2 separate regions of the Homo sapiens genome follow, and region 2 is linked to region 1. The links come from fine-mapping of genetic effects on gene expression. A gene starts in region 1. The other region holds a variant in brackets. All regions are shown on one strand. Distances are between the middles of the regions. Region 1 holds the start of TSEN15 (tRNA splicing endonuclease subunit 15). Region 2 overlaps LOC102724830 (a long non-coding RNA gene).

Evidence for each region. PIP is the estimated chance that this variant, and not a neighbour inherited with it, causes the effect.
Region 2: its variant is the best candidate, but not a certain one, in a credible set for the expression of TSEN15 in monocytes after interferon gamma (Fairfax 2014, PIP 0.73).

The regions. Positions count from the first base shown.
Region 1 is chr1:184,048,889-184,054,275 of GRCh38, reverse strand. It overlaps TSEN15 (tRNA splicing endonuclease subunit 15), which reads right to left and starts at 2,546. Exons shown (of 5, transcript NM_052965.4): 1 at 2,386-2,546. The coding sequence starts at 2,520. RefSeq lists enhancers at 2,467-2,761, 2,640-2,769, 2,830-2,939, 2,692-3,627.
Region 2 is chr1:184,119,981-184,125,367 of GRCh38, reverse strand. LOC102724830 (a long non-coding RNA gene) reads right to left here. Exons shown (of 4, transcript XR_426875.4): 3 at 4,118-4,403; 4 at 1,405-3,581. Among named protein-coding and RNA genes, the nearest start is that of TSEN15, 71 kb to the right of the region's middle. The variant AAG/G (reference allele first, on the strand shown) is at 2,650.

The DNA.
Region 1 (5,387 bases):
AGCATATATAATCTATAAAATTCTTCTAGGTATAGTGGAAGTTAAAAGGCAATATAAGATCTTATCTCTGTCTCTAAAGAACTTGCAATTGTTAAATACATGCACACTTAAAATTGTTAGGCAAATAACAATATATGACTGTAAGTGATTAAAAACCATGTAAATGGAATAAAAAACATGACACAGCAGGTCAGAAGAGCTCTACTCAGAGGGACTGGTGAAAGATTTATAGCAGAGGTGGGATGGGATACAAGTTGAGCACTGAAGAACATTATGATTTAAGTAAGTGGAGAAGTAGAGTAATACTGCAGGTAATTACACAAAGGTGGGATTAAGCCACATACATTCAAGGGCCTGTAAAGAAACCTATCTGCCAGCAATAGAGAAACCTTTTTAATAAAACTTGTGATGGGACATGTTAGTGGGTACTGTGTATTTCCCTAGCCTCTTATTTGTATATGGAGAGAATCTGCTAGAGTATCAGTCCTAGCCTCTCTACCCACTCTTTCTCACTTTAAGAGTAGATTTTTTAAAAGGAATTGACAAGGAACTAGAGAAAGCTGCTTCTTTCAGACTACTGGTCAGCATAAGGGGAATACTTTTCAGGGGCCTACACCTGCAGGAGAATTCTGAGGCTGCCCAGCTATGCCAGCGACTAGGTGGATATGCAGGGCTAATGCTGAGTTGAATTATTAGCAGACCTGCATGGGGACAGGTCTAAAGTCACATTCTCCCATCAGCTTCACTGTAACTGTACAGGTTCAGGAGGACAGGGGTTAATTAGTTGTCGACTTCAAACATGTTTTGAAAATAACACCCAAAACATAATTTTGAGCCAGGTTACAAGGCTTTGGTGGTCAAGCTAAACATGTGATTTTATCAGTATGGAAACACTGAGGATTTCTAAGCAGGAGAATAATAAAATAAAAGTGTGTTTGGGGATAATAAATCTGGTACCATTTTACTGGATGAAACTACATAATTTTTAAATTAACAGAAAGGTGAAATTGGAAAAACAAATACCCCCTATTATTTTATTACTTGTTCTTTTTCTTTTAAAAATTAATTTGATCCTTCAAGAAGAGAAATCAAAAGGGGAGATTTGATGGTCAAGGTGTATACAGCCATTAACTTGAAAAAGAAAACAATCTACAAGTATATAAACTGAATAACACCACCAAATCTAGATAAAGTCTTAAAAAGTTGTTACTGGTGTTTCGCTTATTAAGTACTTATATAGTGCTTTCTGTATGTTGAATGGCTTACAAATATTCATTAATTTAATCCTGTAACAACCGTATAAGTAAGTATGGACTATTAATATCCCCATTTTTCAGGTGAGGAAACTAAGGCATAATAAGATCAAGCAACTTGTCCCAAATCACAAGGTTGATAAGTGACAGAATCAGGATTTAAACTGAGTCTGATTTTGAGTTCATGCGCCTAACCAATATGCTGCCTCTCCATGCTATTGTTTCCCTAAAAGGGCACTAAATAATATTTCCATGCTATTGTTTCTTTTTCTCACCTTTTGGGAGGATGAAGGGGACAGAGTAGGAAGATAAAATTAAGCAAGAGAAGCTGAAAAAGGTTAACTCTTCAAACTTATACCTTCAAATTTTTTCTTGGCTGTTTTTAGATGATTATGAATTATTGCTCTCTAGCAGAAGAGTGCAATTCTGTTAAAGTACCGTAGAGACTAGTTTTTGAGATTCTTACAAAACCCACATCTCCATTCACTGTCTATTCACTGCTTGGAACCGTACTTGTACAAGGCAGTAATGTCTCAAGCAGAAGTAAGCAGAGGACTATCTTGATCTCGCCTGCTGCTAATCTAGAAAAATACACGCAAAATGTGAGTAGCTCTGCTTTGAGCAAGAACCTATTCAAACTTTCGAAGAAATCTGAAATATTAGGAATCTGCACCTTTTCAAAATAAAGATGCATTCTGGGCCCAAGGCTAAGTGTAAACGTGACTGTGCTTAAATCTTTATCACTATGGACCCCTAGATCTTATCCATCGCCCACAAATTGTCTTGCATGGTTACCGTGAGGATTAAATAAATTTATCCCCCAAAGGGGATTTACCTAGACAGCAAAACTAGTGGAGCGCTTATTAGGGATCTCCGGCTTGAGAGGGGCGGAGTTACTGTCTGGCTCTCAGTTCCAAAATGGCTTTGGCTGGGGGATTGAGATAGTGCAACTTGTTTAAACAAACAAAACCGATGCTGCCTGAGGCTGGCAGTTGTGCACACCGGTCCCCCTCGGTGAGGGTGGCGCGCGTCCTCAGTCTCCCACTGAGGAAGAAAGAAAGAGAGCTGCCTGGGAGTGTTCTGCCTGGGTTAGGGGCCTGGACGGCGCCCTGCTCCTCTCGCGCCTCCTGACCTTAGGGTGAGTGCCCATCCAGGCGTCCTCAGGGGCCCACGAAGGAGCTCCACCGCCGTCGCCAAAGCCGCGAACACCGCCCGGACCCAGGCCGCTGCAGCCGGGGGTCGGCTCGGAATCGCCGCGCTCCTCCATGCCGGCCGGTGCGGCGCTCCCGTGGTGCACCACGACCCGCGCCCGGCCAGAAGCAGCGGCGCGCGCGCCTGTGGGTTCCGCTTCCCCGAGGCTCGCAGCTGCAGTGCGAGAGGGCTCAGAAACTGGGAGGAAAGTTGCATCAGCCCCTCCTTCTGACCAAGGTAGCTAGAACCTGCGCGAACGCTCTCTAGTTTCGCTCTGCGTTTATTCAAATCTGAGCAAATTCTAACGTGAAAAATATTAAAGAGTAGCCTGCGCCCTGAAGCTCTTAATCCTCTTTAAGTCAGTGCTGCCGATAACTCTCTGAGAAAGTTGGGGGATACATACGTCCTCTTTGCCTTCAGCAGTGGGGTCCTGGTTTCTGATTGCTGGGGACGGGAAAGGCCTTACTCAGTGCCCTGACATAGAACTTTAAAGTAGAACCATACTTTCAGGGTGGACCCACGTTTCAGGATTAGAGGAAACACGAGTTGCTGAACGAGTGTTCAGAAAGGTAGGATACAAACTAGCATAAGCATGTGATCTGGAAGCCAAGGATGAGGAGTTTCAAACAGGCAGAGTAGCACATTTTAAGTATTTTTTAATTTACTGTGAGTGAAATGGGAAGCTATTGGAGGCTCCTGGACGTTTTCATAGGATCACTCTGACTGATATGTTGAGGATAGACTGGAGGGAGCAAGGACACAAACAGAGACTGGTTAGGAGGCTATCGCATTGACCAGGACAAGGGTGACTCAAAATCCAAAGTCCCAGGCAGGACATAACTTCTGTTTTCAACCATGATAGACTAAGACCCTAGTGGACCATCCCCCAGCAGAAAACAATTTGGACACAATGCAAAAAGCTGAATATACTGGAATGTGAATAGTGGACTGGTAGGAAGGGCAAGCTTGCTTGAAGATCAGGAACTACACTTGGACACAATACAAAAAGCTGAATATACTGGAATGTGAACAGCAGACTGGTAGGAAGGGCAAGCTTGCTTGAAGATCAAGAACTCCACAAGAAAATTCTCCTCTCTTTGGCATTTAGCTTGGGGCAAAGTGCAGTCCAGAAGTCAGGCTCAGCAGTACCAGGGATGCATGTATAAAACTTATCAGTTATTCTTGTCTGGGGAAGCAGAAAAGTGAAGACAGAAAATTTTGAATTCTGAAGAGATTAAGAAATCCCAAGGAAGGAGTCAGAGAGTGGATCCCCAAACTGTCAACCCACATCTCTGAGAGATCCTGAACCACCCAAAACAGAATCACAGCAGCTCAGTTAAAAACAAAAGATCTGAACTGAGACCAGAGCTGTCTCCAAAAGGGAGAGAGTTTTCAGTTAAAATCTAGCCGGGAAAATTACCTACTAATACAAAGGAAATAACACTCATCAGAGAAGAATAATAGAATCCAGACTCTCCACTTAACACTCACAAAGTCCAGAGTACTATCCAAAACTATCTGACATATGAAATTCAAGGAAATGGATCGCATACTCTAGAGATCAACCCTGAGATGAATCAGATATTGAAACTGACAGATAAGGATTTTAAAGTGACTATTATAACTATCCTCAATGAAGTAAAACATGTTTTCAATGAATGAAAATCTCAGGAGACAAATAGAAAATCTCAGCAAAGAAAAAGAAAAAAAAAGATTTTTAAAACCAAATGGAAATTCTGAAAATTGAAAATTATAATTTTAGAAATAAAAAATTCACTGGGTGAATTTAACAGCCAAAAAAAATTACAAAAGAAAAAGTAGGGAACTTGAAGATAGAGCAATAGAAATTATTAAAAGTAAACAACAAAGAGAAAAATTATCTTTAAAAAGTGAGTAGACCAACAGAGATTTGCTACATGTCAGACAATCCAACATGCATGTAAACAACAGAAGTAGAAAAAAAAAGGGACAGAAAAAATTTTTGAAGAAAGAGTGGTGGCCAGAATTTCCCCAAATTTGATGAAAAACACATTTACTAGTACAAAATGCTAAATACATAGCAACTAAAATAAACACAAAGAAGTCTACATTGTAATAAAACTATTGAAAGTCAAAAAAATAAAGAGAAAAGCTTGAATGCATCAAAAGAAATAACACATCATACACAGGGAAAAGAAGGGCATCTATTATTGAATGAAATGTAAAGCCACACATGAAGATTCATATGTTGCCCTCAAATACATTACATTTGAATGAACCTTTGCCACCACAAAGCAGCTGCTAAGCCCGAAAGAAGAAAATGGCACTGAAATTAATTGGGTCATTGAAGCATGAAACACTGACACGAATTCAAGTGATTGGAAGTGAATAAATCTCTCTGACTCCTAAAGATCCAAATCAGTTCATATGATGGCATTTTTAAAAGCATTAAGAGTATTTTGATGCTAATCTGAGTAGAGGGAAACTTTTATAAATCAGTAAGGATATCCAATGGGATTAGGGACTATATGAACCAGCCTCAAACATCTGCAGGGGAAGAATTTCAGCTTATGTTCAAGAAAAAATAATTGGGGGTATGGAAAGAACCATAAACCAAAAAAGCAACAGATAAATGCCATCCTTTGGCAAATAGATTAAATACTGTTGCTTAGAAAAAGCATGATACATTCAAGAATGAGTATTACGTGCTTTTCAAAAGAGTTGAAGAATGAAAAGGGAGTGTCTGTTAGCTTCCCTGTTAATGTAAATTTTTAAATAGGTCTTGGTGATTGTGAATGGCTAAGAATGAACACAAAGGATTTGGGAACACTTAGACAACCCAGTATTTAAAGTACAGAATCAAAATACCTATTGTGACAATCTAGAGTGAAATCCACTAGAGAACAGAGGAGAGTTTCAGTGTCTGGTATCCTGGAGGATTTCTCATTTTGTAAATGCTTCAAT
Region 2 (5,387 bases), 71 kb before region 1:
TTTGAAACCAATCAGAAAAGATATTCCTGGTGATACATGCCTCTTTGTTAGCATAATAATGGACTGGTAAGAAACTCACTTCTTGAAAACAGCAAGGATGTAAGCTTTTGACTATCACAGCAAGTATATACCAATATGTGCCTGCTGCATTAGCACATCCCAGTAGCTATTCTGTTCTTGGCATCCTCAATTATTCTTGTAGGGGTCATCTCATAAGTCATAGTCAGTGTCTTTCTGGGGCAATAACACCAAAAGAGTAATGTTTCATCAGCATTATAGACTTGTTATGGTGTCAGATTTTAATCAGTGATGACTTTGGCAAATTTGTCAATAAATTTTTCCATTGCTTCACGATCAGCAGACACTTCATCACCACAAATCTTTAAAAATTTAGTGCCATGTCTTTTCTTAAACTTCTGCAACCAGCTTGTTGAATATTCACAGTTCCATTCCATTTTCAGTTCACTCTGATAGATCTTTGCTTGCTTCACCATCAGCATACTATTAAGTGGCATGTGTTCACTGCAACGCTGATGGATCCACTCCTTCAATACACAATCGAGATCTTCATTTTAAGCTTTATGCAGTGTTTTCCTATTTTTAATCAAATTCTGCTCATCACTTTAAGCATAAAAATTCCACAGTTTATCCTTATTTTCATACATGGTGATCATTCCAACACCATACTCTTCCATAAGACATTTCACACTTAGACTGCTGTTCAGTATCTGTTCTACAGACAAACATAAATGTGTTCTCTTTTTCTTATTACTATTACCCATATGCAGACCTTTTTGACATTTTCAACAATATCTTTATACCACAGAGCAGAGAATAAGCAAAAAAACACAATGAGTAATACATGCCATCTTGGCTCCCCATGGGGCATCATGGGGAACCTGCTATTGGCACATCCGGCCTGCACGTGTGTCATTTTTATTACCCTTTGTGAGTGTGCTTGCATGGGGGAATCTGGGCATTGGGTAGAAAAGATGTATTGCAGCTGATGGGGGCTGGGTGGGTCTATTTGTCTTGAGAAGGCTGAATAAACTGTGTGTTGCATGCCTGCATTTTGACTGACTGCAACTCATCATGTGAATGAGGTTATGTGTGAAATTTTCCACTTGTGGTGTGCATATGTAAGGAGGTCAGGCATCTTTTCTTTCCTCATTTGTGGTGTCATGTCATGCTTGAAAATTTTCAAATTTGACCATTTTGGATTTGGGGGTTAGGAATGCGCAACTTATGCTGTTTGATTCCATTGATATAAAATGTCCAGAAAAGGCCAATCTATAGATATGGAAAACAGATCAGTGGTTGCCTGGGGTTGAAAGTAGAAGCAGAATTGATTGCAAATGGGCACAAAGAAACATTTCAGGCTGACAGAAATGTTCTAAGTCTGGATTGTAATGATAAGACCATACAACTCTATACATTTATTAAAAATCATTGAATTATACACTCAAAATAGGTGAACCTTATGGTACATAAATTATACTTCAATACAGATTTTTTTTTGAGGGTATGTGGCTTGGACCATACGTCTCAGAGGAGAGGTGGTAAGTAGTAATAACAGATGGCGGAAGACATTACAATAACAGGCACCAAATAAATGGGGTGATCAGGGTCTTGATCTGGGGTCATTACACAGGTCAATAGATCCATTATACTTGTGCTTCATTTTTTCCTCCATGGACTGTTCTTTTAATAAATTCTTATATTCTTGACCCTTTAGTATATGAATCCCAGGAGGGCAGAGACATTTGCCCATTTTTTTTTCACAGCTGTTCACCCAGGGCCTGTCATTTAGTAGGCCATCAATAAATATTTTTTGAATGAATAAAGGGCTGAAGAGCTGACAACCAGGGGATAGAAAAGTAGCTATGAGTAGAGCTCAAGCCAGGTAGCTCTTCCAAGGCTCTGAGAGTGTAGCCTTAGAGGCCCTTTAACCTGAATCACTTCCGAGGCTCAGGATGCTGTGCTCCTCCACACCAGGCCTACTCCACTTTTTCATCCCATTAGTAAAACTTCACCATATCTCAGGCCCATGTGTTTCAGTTGGAGACCAGGCAATATTTCACCCCATCCTTCCCTATCTTAACTTCTTTTTACAGCTCAATGTTAAAACAAGTTAATCGAAAACACCTCCTCAAACTCACACCATTCACTCAGCTCTTGCTATCCTGATTGCCATATTTTTCACTTTATCTTTGGAATTTTGCTCCATTATTTTGCATTTCTGACAGACAGAACAGAATGTCTCTGACTTGCCACCTTGAGAACCTCCTTCTAAGAACCCAGCAACCAAAAGCATAACACAATTGGTTTTTAAAGAATTGAGGTCTGGCCAGGCGCGGTGGCTCACGCCTGTAATCCCAGCATTTTGGGAGGCCGAGGCAGGTGCATCACGAGGTCAGGAGATCGAGACCATCCTGGCTAACATGGTGAAACCCCATCTCTACTAGAAACACCAAAAATTAGCTGGGCGTGGTGGTGGGTGCCTGTAGTCCCAGCTACTCAGGAGGCTGAGGCAGGAGAATGGCGTGAACCCGGGAGGCGGAGCTTGCAGTGAACCGAGATCGCGCCACTGCACTCCAGCCTGGGCAACAGAGCAAGGCTCTGCCTCAAAAAAAAAAAAAAAAAAAAAAA[AAG/G]AATTGAGGTCTTACTCTGTCACCCAGGCTGGAGTGCAATGGCACGATCACAGCTTACCACAACCTCAAATTCTTGGGTTCAAGCGATCCTCCTGCCTTATCCTCCTGAGTAACTGGGACTACAGGCACTTGTCACCTGCCTGGCTAATTAATTTTTTTTTTTTTTTTTTTTTTTAGAGACAGGGTATTGCTATGTTAGACCAGGCTGGTCTACAACTCCTGGCATCAAGGGATCCTCCTTTTGGGTCCTCAGCCACCCCAAGCTCTGAGATTACAGGTGTGAGCCACTGTGCCCGGCCTAAAAATGTTTTTTAAACATTTTGAAAACACCCACCATGCTTTAGTGAGAGAACACTTTTCTTCTACCTCCTGTTGCATTACTAGTCCATTAAATTTCTTCACCCCACTCCTGAAGATGCATTGTCTACAGCTGCACCTGGCCCGACAGTCCACTATGAAGGCTCTGATTTAGATCCTGCTGGAGGACCACCTATATTGTTGTCTTACCAGTGGTCTCCCAGGCTGTAAAAATCTCTGGAGACTTGTTTATCATTAAATTTTAAAAGGCAAGAAAATGAAAATCAGAACAACCCTAATGTAAAATTCCTACATGTCTGTCCCTTTAGCAGCATCTAACTTTTTATCTTTTCATGTATTTCATATACTCTCACACCTACACACACACACACACACACACACACACACACACACACACATTCCTTTTCATTTTCCTTGCTTGCTTGTTTATGTTTGGTTTCCAACCCTAAGTATTGGAGCTGAATTCTGCATTCCATCTATTAGTGTCATCACAGAAGACATCACATCTTCCTGAGTTCATTTATCATTCCTCCTCCTCTCTCGACATCCTTTTAAATATGCAAAGTCTCATCACAGTATCGCGGTCCCAGCAGCAGTCGTAGCTGCACTTGTCTGCAAAGGAAATAAGGGAAAGATTGCAAGAATATGATGTGAATACATAGTCTACCTTGGAATCATGACTCATTCATTTTTCATGTATCCAGAAAATTTTTACTAAATTTCTAATGTGTGAAGGTCACTGTGGAGGTTGTTCAAGCAATGCTAAGACATAAAACACAGTCTTTACCTTTAAGAAATTGCCACCAAGTAGTGGAGATAAAACATATGGAAGAAGAGGGTAGGGGATGACAACTGCTAAGCATTAGAGTGGGGGCTTTAAAGGAGAGCAGGCATCTGGCCAGAGGAGTTGGCATAGAGACAGTGGCTTGGTGGTGGCATTTGAACTGGGTCTTAGAAGATGAGTATGGCTTGAAAGATAGAGAAAGGGAGGCAGAAGAGAAGGAATTCTAGGGCAAGGGAGCAGCATGAACAAAACCACGGAAATGAAGAGCTTAAACTGTATTTGTGGATGAGACCAACAGCAGGGGCTCCTCCTTCATCAGATGTACCCAGAAAGTAGAGCAACAACACAGATGTCCAAGTCTCACCCAGAGATTCTGCTGGAGCGCTCTTCCTACTTCTCTCTGGAGGACCAGCTCCTTCTCACAACTTCAACTGTGAGATTATGTGTCAGCTTCTCACAAAGGCCCTTCTCTGACCACCACATCTACAGTAGGGCTCCTTCCTGCCAATGTCCTCTCTGTCAGCCTCCTTCTTTCCCATCATAGTGTGTCATAGTTTATAATCATTTTGTTGATGTTTGTCTGCTTGTCTGACTCCAATGGTAGCATCAAAAGTCTCTGATAACAGAGACCAGGACTGATTGTTTAGTGCCTGAAAAATAGTAAGAGTGCAATTAATATTTGTTGATTGAATGAGTGAGTAATTGAGTTATTAACGAACAAATGAAAGTTAAACATTTTTTGAGACAGGGTTGATGATTTTATTTATTTATTTTACATTTAATGAGTGCATACCTTATTACTTGTCTTTAAATCTTTCACCAAAGTTCATTTATTAAATCTATATTTTCTATTTCGGGGAAAGTCACATGACTTTCATGGGACTTGACACTTTTGCTTTCATAGGTATCTTTGTCCAAAAAATATTAAAATTATGTTTTACAACTGTGTTAATATAATTATGCATACAATACAATTTGGATTGTGTTCTTTTTTCTTTTGATTGAAAAAGAAATTAAAAGATCCTGGACCTCTAAAAGCATTGTGGGACCTAGGTGCTGTACTTCCTGTATCTAATAGGTAAATCAGCCCTGTGAGTAGTAAAATTGTTTTTAAAGACTTAATAGAAAACAAGGCTAGACAAATAGTATGGGAAAAGATTATAGAAGGACTTGTACACCAGATTTTGAGTTTAGTAAATTTCAACTTTATTTAGGAGGCAATAAAAATCACAGAGAGTTTAAGCTAAAGAATTATATTTCAATATGGCAGAGCCATTGTAGGAAGAAGAAGCTGCAGGACAAACGGAGAAGATGCTGGTCAGGAAAGCTCCAGAATGTGGTTCAGACCCCATGAGATGAAAAGGATTGAACTATGGGTGATAGTGATGCTCTTCTTGCTGGAAGAGCAAAAGCTAACCTGAGAAAACATGTGAATTTATCTTACAACCAACTCTCTAGGGAGGGTGGATTCAAAGATGGCTGTGTTTCTGAACCAGAACTGGGAGAACAGTGTGATCAGGAACAGAAGTAGTGTCATCCAGAGAAGAGAGACTTGGTGGGGAGTATGATGGGATTGATTTGGGATATGTTTTGGGGAAGGGATACTAGCTGAACAACCCAATGGAACATCTTAG